Linked DNA regions of Homo sapiens: region 2 is linked to region 1. A link means that fine-mapping ties the variant in region 1 to the expression of a gene that starts in the linked region. Tissue or cell type: whole blood. Region 1 holds a variant in brackets; the other region holds the start of a gene. All regions are shown on one strand. Distances are from middle to middle.

What was found. PIP is the estimated chance that this variant, and not a neighbour inherited with it, causes the effect. A credible set is the group of variants that fine-mapping cannot tell apart.
Region 2: CD3E starts here. The variant in region 1 is the best candidate, but not a certain one, in a credible set for the expression of CD3E in whole blood (INTERVAL, PIP 0.78).

What each region holds. Positions count from the first base shown.
Region 1 is chr11:118,429,735-118,434,088 of GRCh38, forward strand. No RefSeq gene overlaps it. Among named protein-coding and RNA genes, the nearest start is that of KMT2A, 4.6 kb to the right of the region's middle. The variant TA/T (reference allele first, on the strand shown) is at 1,910.
Region 2 is chr11:118,302,911-118,306,910 of GRCh38, forward strand. CD3E (CD3 epsilon subunit of T-cell receptor complex) reads left to right here and starts at 1,820. Exons shown (of 9, transcript NM_000733.4): 1 at 1,820-1,866; 2 at 1,984-2,091. The coding sequence starts at 2,043.

The sequences.
Region 1 (4,354 bases):
GCTCACTGCAACCTCTGCCTCCCAGGTTCAAGCGATTCTCCTGCCTGGGCCTCCCGAGTAGCTGGGACTACAGGCATTCGCCACCATGCCTGGCTAATTTTTGTATATTTAGTAGAGACAGGGTTTTGTCATGTTGGCCAGGCTGGTCTCGAACTCCTGACCTCTTTACAGAAAGCCAGATGCCTATGCTAGGGTTGTATTTAAAGTCCTTTTAGGCTGGGCACGGTGGCTTATGCTTATAATCCCAGCACTTTGGAAGCCGAAGCCGAACTCCTGACCCGCACTTAAGGTCGGGAGTTCGAGACCAGCCTGGTCAAGGTGGCGAAACCTTATCTCTACTAAAAGTACAAAAATTAAGGCTGGGTGCAGTGGCTCACACCTGTAATCCCAGCATTTTGGGAGGCTGGGATGGATGGATCACTTGAGGTCAGGAGTTCAAGACCAGCCTGGCCAACATGGTGAAACCCTGTCTCTACTAAAAATACAAAAATTAGCTGGGCTTGGTGACACACACCTGTAATCCCAGCTACTAGGGAGGCTGAGGTGGGAGAATTCCTTGAGCCCGGAAGGTGGAGGTTGCAGTGAACTGAGATCACGCCACTGCACTCCAGCCTGGATGACAGAGCGAGACTCTGTCTCAAAAAAAAAAAAAAAAAAAAAAGTACAAAAATTAGCCGGGTGTCGTGGTGGGCGCCTGTAATCCCAGCTACTCAGGAGGCTGAGGCTGGAGAATCGCTTGAACTCTGGGGCGGAGGTTGCAGTGAGCCGAGTTTGCACCACTGCACCCCAGCCTGGACGAGAGTGAGACTCTGTCTCAAACAAACAAAAAAGTCCTTTTAGTCATAGGAATAGCTATATATAATTTATTTTTTTGAGATGAAGTTTTGCTCTTGTTGCCCAGGCTGGAGTGCAATGACGCAGTCTCGACTCACCGCAACCTCTGCCTCCCGGGTTCAAGCGATTCTCCTGCCTCAGCCTCCCAAGTAGCTGGGATTACAGGCATGCGCCACCACGCCCAGCTAATTTTGTATTTTTAGTAGAGACAGGGTTTTCTCCATGTTGGCCGGGCTGGTTTCGAATTCCCAACCTCAGGTCACCCACCCACCTTGGCCTCCCAAAGTGCTGGGATTACAGGCGTGAGCCACCACGCCCGGCCAATATATATAATTTTTTTTTTTTAAAGCTCAGAAATGGAAATTCACGGATTCAGGGTAAAATGCAGCCATTGCTTCCTTAATTAGAAGAGTGTTTTTGTGGAAGAGTAATGGACTGTACCCTTTTTTCCCCAGAAAAAAAGCAGCACCTGAGGATTCTGAACAGTTCTCTGCTCAGTGATGATCAAGCCTTCCTTTGGACAAGCTTAAATAACTCAGCCACTGTTCTTTGTTGGAGGACTTTGGGACTACTGATGCAATGTGTCCACTTGGGGGCCCTTTGGAGAAAAAATTGCTAATTTCAGAGGGGCAGCCGCACCAGTGGTTAAGGAAATCCCTGGGGAGAAAATGTTTCTGTCTGGATTAGAGAGAAGACATCTTATTTACTCATTCAATCTTCATGATAATCTTGTGAAGCTATAATTAATATCCTTATTTTTGCAGATTAGGAAACTAAGACGTACTGAGGCTGGGTGCCTGGTTCAAGATCATATAGCTAACATTATTGGACATGCAAATCAAGCCCAGATTTGTGACTCTGAGCTGATGTTAATTCTGTCACAATATTGGTTCTCAAGATAAATCTTTCCAGGTGAGGGGGAAAGGGAATAAATATCTAGAAGTCCCCTTAAACAGAAGTAATTAATTCGTTTGCAGAAATTGGCAAAATTTGGGGTTCCCTTCTTAAAAGTTTCCTTCTGTCACTTGGAAAAAATTTAAAATATGTGCATTAGGTTGACAAAGATCAAAAAAGT[TA/T]AAAAAAAAACCCTTTTTGGAATGCTGTGGAGAAAGGAGCACTTTTATTTATCTATTATTTATTTTATTTTATTTTATTTTATTAATTAATTATTTTTTTTCTTTTTCTGAGACAAGGTCTCATCTCACTCTCTTGCCCAGGCTAGAGTGCAGTGGCCTGATCTCAGCTCACTGCAGCCTCAGCCACCTCAGCTCCACTAGCAGCTGGGACTACAGGCACATGCCAAGTTTCCCAGGCTGGTCTCAAACTCCTGAGCTCAAGATCCTCCCATCTCAGCCTCCCGAAGTCCTGGAATTATGAAAGAGGCACTCTTTTTTTCTTCTTCTTTTTTTTTTTTTTTTTTGAGACACTCTTCTCCGTCTTCCAGGTTAGAGTGCAGTGGGGTGATTTTGGCTCATTGCAACCTCCACCTCCCCGGTTCAAGTGATTCTGGTGCCTCAGCCTCCTGAGTAGCTAGGACTACAGGTGTGTGCCACCACGCCAGGCTAATTTTTCTATTTTTAGTAGAGACGGAGTTTTGCCATGTTGGCCAGGTTGATCTCGAACCCCTGACCTCAGGTGATTTGCCCACCTCTGCCTCCCAGAAGTGTTGGAATTACAGTCATGAGCCACTGCACCCAGCCAAAAGGCACTCTAGAACATTGCTGGTGGGAGTATGAATTAGCATAACCTTTACCGGGGACAACTTGGCACTGTCTATTAAAACTACAAATGTACATACCTTTTGACTCAGCAACTGCTCTTCTAGAAATCTATACTACAGATACATTTGAACATTTGCAAAATGACGTATATTAAAGGTTATGCACTGCAGCATTGTGTGAAATACATGCAACAGATTGGAAACAACTCAAGTGCCCACCGATAGAGAACTGATTAAAGTAAGCTCTATCTCTATTCCATACAGCCCCAATAATGAGGAAACTGTCTACTTATAGTAATATTTCCAAGATATAAGTGAAATAAGCAAGATTCAGGAAATTGGTTTGATATGCTTTTATTTATGCAAAAACTTCTATATGTGTATGCTTTTGTAGGCATAGACTATGTATGGAAGAATATACAATAGACTGATAACAGTTACTCCTACTAAAGGGTAAGTAATATTACTGAGGTTGGGGAGAGGATGATTCAGAGCAAAAATAAAGTGAGGACTTTAAGGACTTTAATTCCTTTAATTTTTTTTTTTTTTTTTTTTTTTTGAGATGGAGTCTTGCTCTGTCGCCCAGGCTGGAGTGCAATGGTGGGATCTAAGCTCCCTGCAACCTCTGCCTCCCAGGTTCAAGCGATTCTCCTGCTTCAACCTCCCAAGTAGCTGGGATTACAGGCACTTGCCACCACACCCGGCTAATTTTTGTATTTTTCATAGAGATGGGGTTTCACCATGTTAGCCAGGCTGGTTTCAAACTCCTGACCTCATGATTCGCCCGCTTTGGCCTCCCAAATTACGGAGTGAGCCACCACGCCCGGCCTCCTTTTAAATTTTTTTTTTTAATTTTTTTTTTTTAGAGATGGAGTCTCACTCTGTCGCCCAGGCTGGAGTGCAGTGGTGCGATTTCGGCTCACTGCAACCTCCGCCCCCCGGGTTCAAGTGATTCCCCTGCCTCAGCCTCCCGAGTAGCTGATTACAGGCACCCGCCACCACACCCGCTAATTTTTGTATTTTTAGTCGAGACGGGGGTTTCACCATGTTGGCTAGGCTGTTCTTGAACTCCTGACCTCAGGTGATCTGCCCAGCTCAGCCTCCCAAAGTACTGGGATTACAGGCGTGAGCCACCGTGCCCGGCCTTAAATTTTTAACCATATGAATGTATTAGGTATTCAAGAAAAATATGTTGAATGAAAATTTAAAATAAAAAATAAGTAAAGCACATCGAATTTAAGGTACCTAATGTGTAAGGCACAGAATGTCTTTTTTTTTTTTTTTTTTTTTTTGAGACGGAGTCTTGCTGTCGCCCAGGCTGGAGTGCAGTGGCGCGATCTCGGCTCACTGCAGGCTCCACCCCCCGGGGTTCACGCCATTCTCCTGCCTCAGCCTCCCGAGAAGCTGGGAATACAGGCGCCCGCCACCTCGCCCAGCTAATTTTTTGTATTTTTAGTAGAGACGGGGTTTCAGTGTTAGCCAGAATGGTCTCGATCTCCTGACCTCATGATCCGCCTGCCTCGGCCTCCCAAAGTGCTGGGATTACAGGAGTCGTAATGTCTTTTTATGATCAGCAGGATGGTTAACGGATATTTGCTGTCAGACCCCAGTGAGTTTTAGCACTTCTACTTACTAGCTGTGTGACTTTAGACATTATTCTAAGCCTCAGTTTCCCCATATGTAAAATCAAACTTATAGAATTGGAGAGAATTGAGTGCACATAAAGCACTTAGGCTCACAGAAAGCACTGAAAAATGTTATTATTAATATTTTCGCCCTAAAATCTCCAACAATAAACCA
Region 2 (4,000 bases), 130 kb before region 1:
ATTTGAATATTATAAGAATTTGATACTGTCACTCACCTTTTTAAAACTATTTGAATACTTCCTACAGCCCTAAGAAAATCCTTAAGAATCCCTAACATAGCTTGCAAATCCCTTCCCATCTGGCCCCTGCTGAGTTTCCTATCTCTTTTATTTTTTTCATTTTTATTTTTTGACAGGGTCTTGCTCTATTGCCCAGGCTGGAGCATAGTAGCACAATCATAGCTGACTGCAGCCTCAACCTCCTGAGCTCAAGTGATCCTCCCACCTCAGCCTCCCGAGTAGCTGGGACTACAGGTGAGCACCATCACATCCGGCTAATTTTTTGTATTTTTTTGTAGAGATAGGGTTTCACCATGTTGCTCAGGCTGGTCTTGAGCTCCTGGCCTCAAGCAATCTGCCTGCTTTGGCCTCCCAAAGTACCATATCTGGCGAATTTCTTATATTATTTCTTACACTCCTCGTTCTCCCTGTTACCTGCCGTGCTGGATTTTCCATTTCTCTTCCTCATCTCTGGACTTCAAACATGCTGCTGCCTCTATCTGGAATGCTTTCCACTCCACCTGGTTCATTGCTGTTCCTCCATCAAATTTCAGCTTAGATGTCACCTGCTCAGGGGGACCTTCTCTTCCCCATCCCACCCCAGACTATCTTAGATCCCTTCTATCACTCCCACAGCACCTGAACGTCTTTTTTCTTAGCATCAATCTCCTGAAGTTATCTGGGGGGTTTTTTAGAGATGGGATCTCACTATGTTGCCTAGGCTGGAGCGCAGTGGCTATTCACAGGCACAATCACACTCACTGCAGTCTCGAACCCCTGGGCTCAGTCAGTCCTCCTGCCTCAGCCTCCTGAGTAGCTGGGAATACAGGTGTACACCATCATGCGGGGCATGGTTATTGGTTATGAGGTTATCTGTTTAATCTCCACATTTCCTTTTTTATCCAAGAGGACTATTTATCTTGTTTCTCCTGTATTACTAGCACCCAGCATATAACTACAGTACAGTAGACAGAAAATATGTATTAAATAAGTGAATTTCATCAAAATGTTTTCTAGAGTCCCAGCTCTGTAATCTGCAACTTAGATAACCTGCCTGAGCCTTAGTTTGCTCAAGTATAAAATGGAAATAAAAATAAAAATAATACTTACCTTAGAGGGTCGTTTTGAGGATTAAATAAGATATATCAGAAAAGCTCTTAGAACGGTGCTTGGATATAGTAAGCATTTGATTAATGCATGCTTAAACATAAAGAAAGGTTACATCAATTCACACTCATACCAGCAGACTTTGACACTATCACTCTTTACCCTGTTCAACATTGAGTCTTGTGTTTTTAAATATTTTTGTAAAGAATATAGGTAAAAAGTGGCATTTTTTCTTTGGATTTAATTCTTATGGATTTAAGTCAACATGTATTTTCAAGCCAACAAGTTTTGTTAATAAGATGGCTGCACCCTGCTGCTCCATGCCAGATCCACCACACAGAAAGCAAATGTTCAGTGCATCTCCCTCTTCCTGTCAGAGCTTATAGAGGAAGGAAGACCCCGCAATGTGGAGGCATATTGTATTACAATTACTTTTAATGGCAAAAACTGCAGTTACTTTTGTGCCAACCTACTACATGGTCTGGACAGCTAAATGTCATGTATTTTTCATGGCCCCTCCAGGTATTGTCAGAGTCCTCTTGTTTGGCCTTCTAGGAAGGCTGTGGGACCCAGCTTTCTTCAACCAGTCCAGGTGGAGGCCTCTGCCTTGAACGTTTCCAAGTGAGGTAAAACCCGCAGGCCCAGAGGCCTCTCTACTTCCTGTGTGGGGTTCAGAAACCCTCCTCCCCTCCCAGCCTCAGGTGCCTGCTTCAGAAAATGGTGAGTCTCTCTCTTATAAAGCCCTCCTTTTTCATCCTAGCATTGGGAACAATGGCCCCAGGGTCCTTATCTCTAGCAGATGTTTTGAAAAAGTCATCTGTTTTGCTTTTTTTCCAGAAGTAGTAAGTCTGCTGGCCTCCGCCATCTTAGTAAAGTAACAGTCCCATGAAACAAAGATGCAGTCGGGCACTCACTGGAGAGTTCTGGGCCTCTGCCTCTTATCAGGTGAGTAGGATGGAGTGGAAAGGGTGGTGTGTCTCCAGACCGCTGGAAGGCTTACAGCCTTACCTGGCACTGCCTAGTGGCACCAAGGAGCCTCATTTACCAGATGTAAGGAACTGTTTGTGCTATGTTAGGGTGAGGGATTAGAGCTGGGGACTAAAGAAAAAGATAGGCCACGGGTGCCTGGGAGAGCGTTCGGGGAGCAGGCAAAGAAGAGCAGTTGGGGTGATCATAGCTATTGTGAGCAGAGAGGTCTCGCTACCTCTAAGTACGAGCTCATTCCAACTTACCCAGCCCTCCAGAACTAACCCAAAAGAGACTGGAAGAGCGAAGCTCCACTCCTTGTTTTGAAGAGACCAGATACTTGCGTCCAAACTCTGCACAGGGCATATATAGCAATTCACTATCTTTGAGACCATAAAACGCCTCGTAATTTTTAGTCCTTTTCAAGTGACCAACAACTTTCAGTTTATTTCATTTTTTTGAAGCAAGATGGATTATGAATTGATAAATAACCAAGAGCATTTCTGTATCTCATATGAGATAAATAATACCAAAAAAAGTTGCCATTTATTGTCAGATACTGTGTAAAGAAAAAATTATTTAGACGTGTTAACTGGTTTAATCCTACTTCTGCCTAGGAAGGAAGGTGTTATATCCTCTTTTTAAAATTCTTTTTAATTTTGACTATATAAACTGATAAGTCCTCTCTACTTCACAGATTAAGAAATTGATACTCAAAAAAGTTAAATAACTTGTTTTAAACCACATAGTAAGTGCCGAAGCCAATCTGTGAGACCAGGACTGTTTGTACTCTAAATGGCTGCACCACATGAGGCAAAATGGCTCGTGATGGTTTTATTTCAAAGACCTAGAAAACACTATCACAGCTGGTGCTCCCGTCTCAGACCCACAGCAACGATGTCTCCACTTCCTGCTTCATCTTGGGTTTCTCACGTCTTGAATGTGCACACAAATCACCTGGGGATCTTGTTAAAAATGCAGCTTCTGTTTCAAAAGACCCAGACTGGAAATGGAGATTCCGCATGTCTAGTACGCTCTCAAGTTTATTAATCTGCTGCTGGTCCTAGGAACATATTGAGTAGCGAGGGGCAGGATGTGACTCCTGTAAGGAGTGGCCAGGCATTTTCTTAGAGACCTGTGTTATAAAGTATGCTTTTCCTTAAAAAAAAGAAGAAGGAGGAGGAGGAGAAGGGCCAGGTGCAGTGGCTTACGCCTGTAAGCCCAGCATTTTGGGGGACCAAAGTGGGAAGATCACTTGAGCTCAGGAGTTCAAGACCAGCCTGGGCAAAGTAGTGAAACCCCATTTCTACAAAAAATTAAAAATTAGCCAGGCAAGGTGGCACACACCTATAGTTCCAGCTACTTGGGAGGCTGAGGTGGAAGGATCACTTGAGCCCAGGAGGTCGAGGCTGCAGTAAGCCATGATCAAGCCACTGCACTCCAGCCTGGAGTGTCTCAAAATAGATAAATAAATAAATAAATAAATAAATAAATAAATAAATAAAAGAGACAGTATCAAAGACCCAATCACCTCTAGACATCTGGCATCATAGGAATGTGCCCAGTCTGCTCTGGGGATAGGAAAGTGGGGATCCTGTCTCCCCCTGTGTAGAGGTTTCAGTAAAAGAAAGGCCTAGGTGTGCAGAAAGCTTTCAGGCAATGCCAGGGAAACTGATCATTGTAATGAATCCAGGGTATTGCTGAGTGAGGGCATCCTGGAGGGCCCGGTGGAAATGTGGTCAGGCTCTTCAATGCACAGGCCCTAGTTGATGAGTAATCAGGGTTTCAAATATTTCCATCTCTGTCTCAAGCAGAAAACAAATGGAAAAACTGAACCACCAGAAAAGCAGAGCCAGAGATGGAACAAGAATCCCAGTGTTTGTACCCA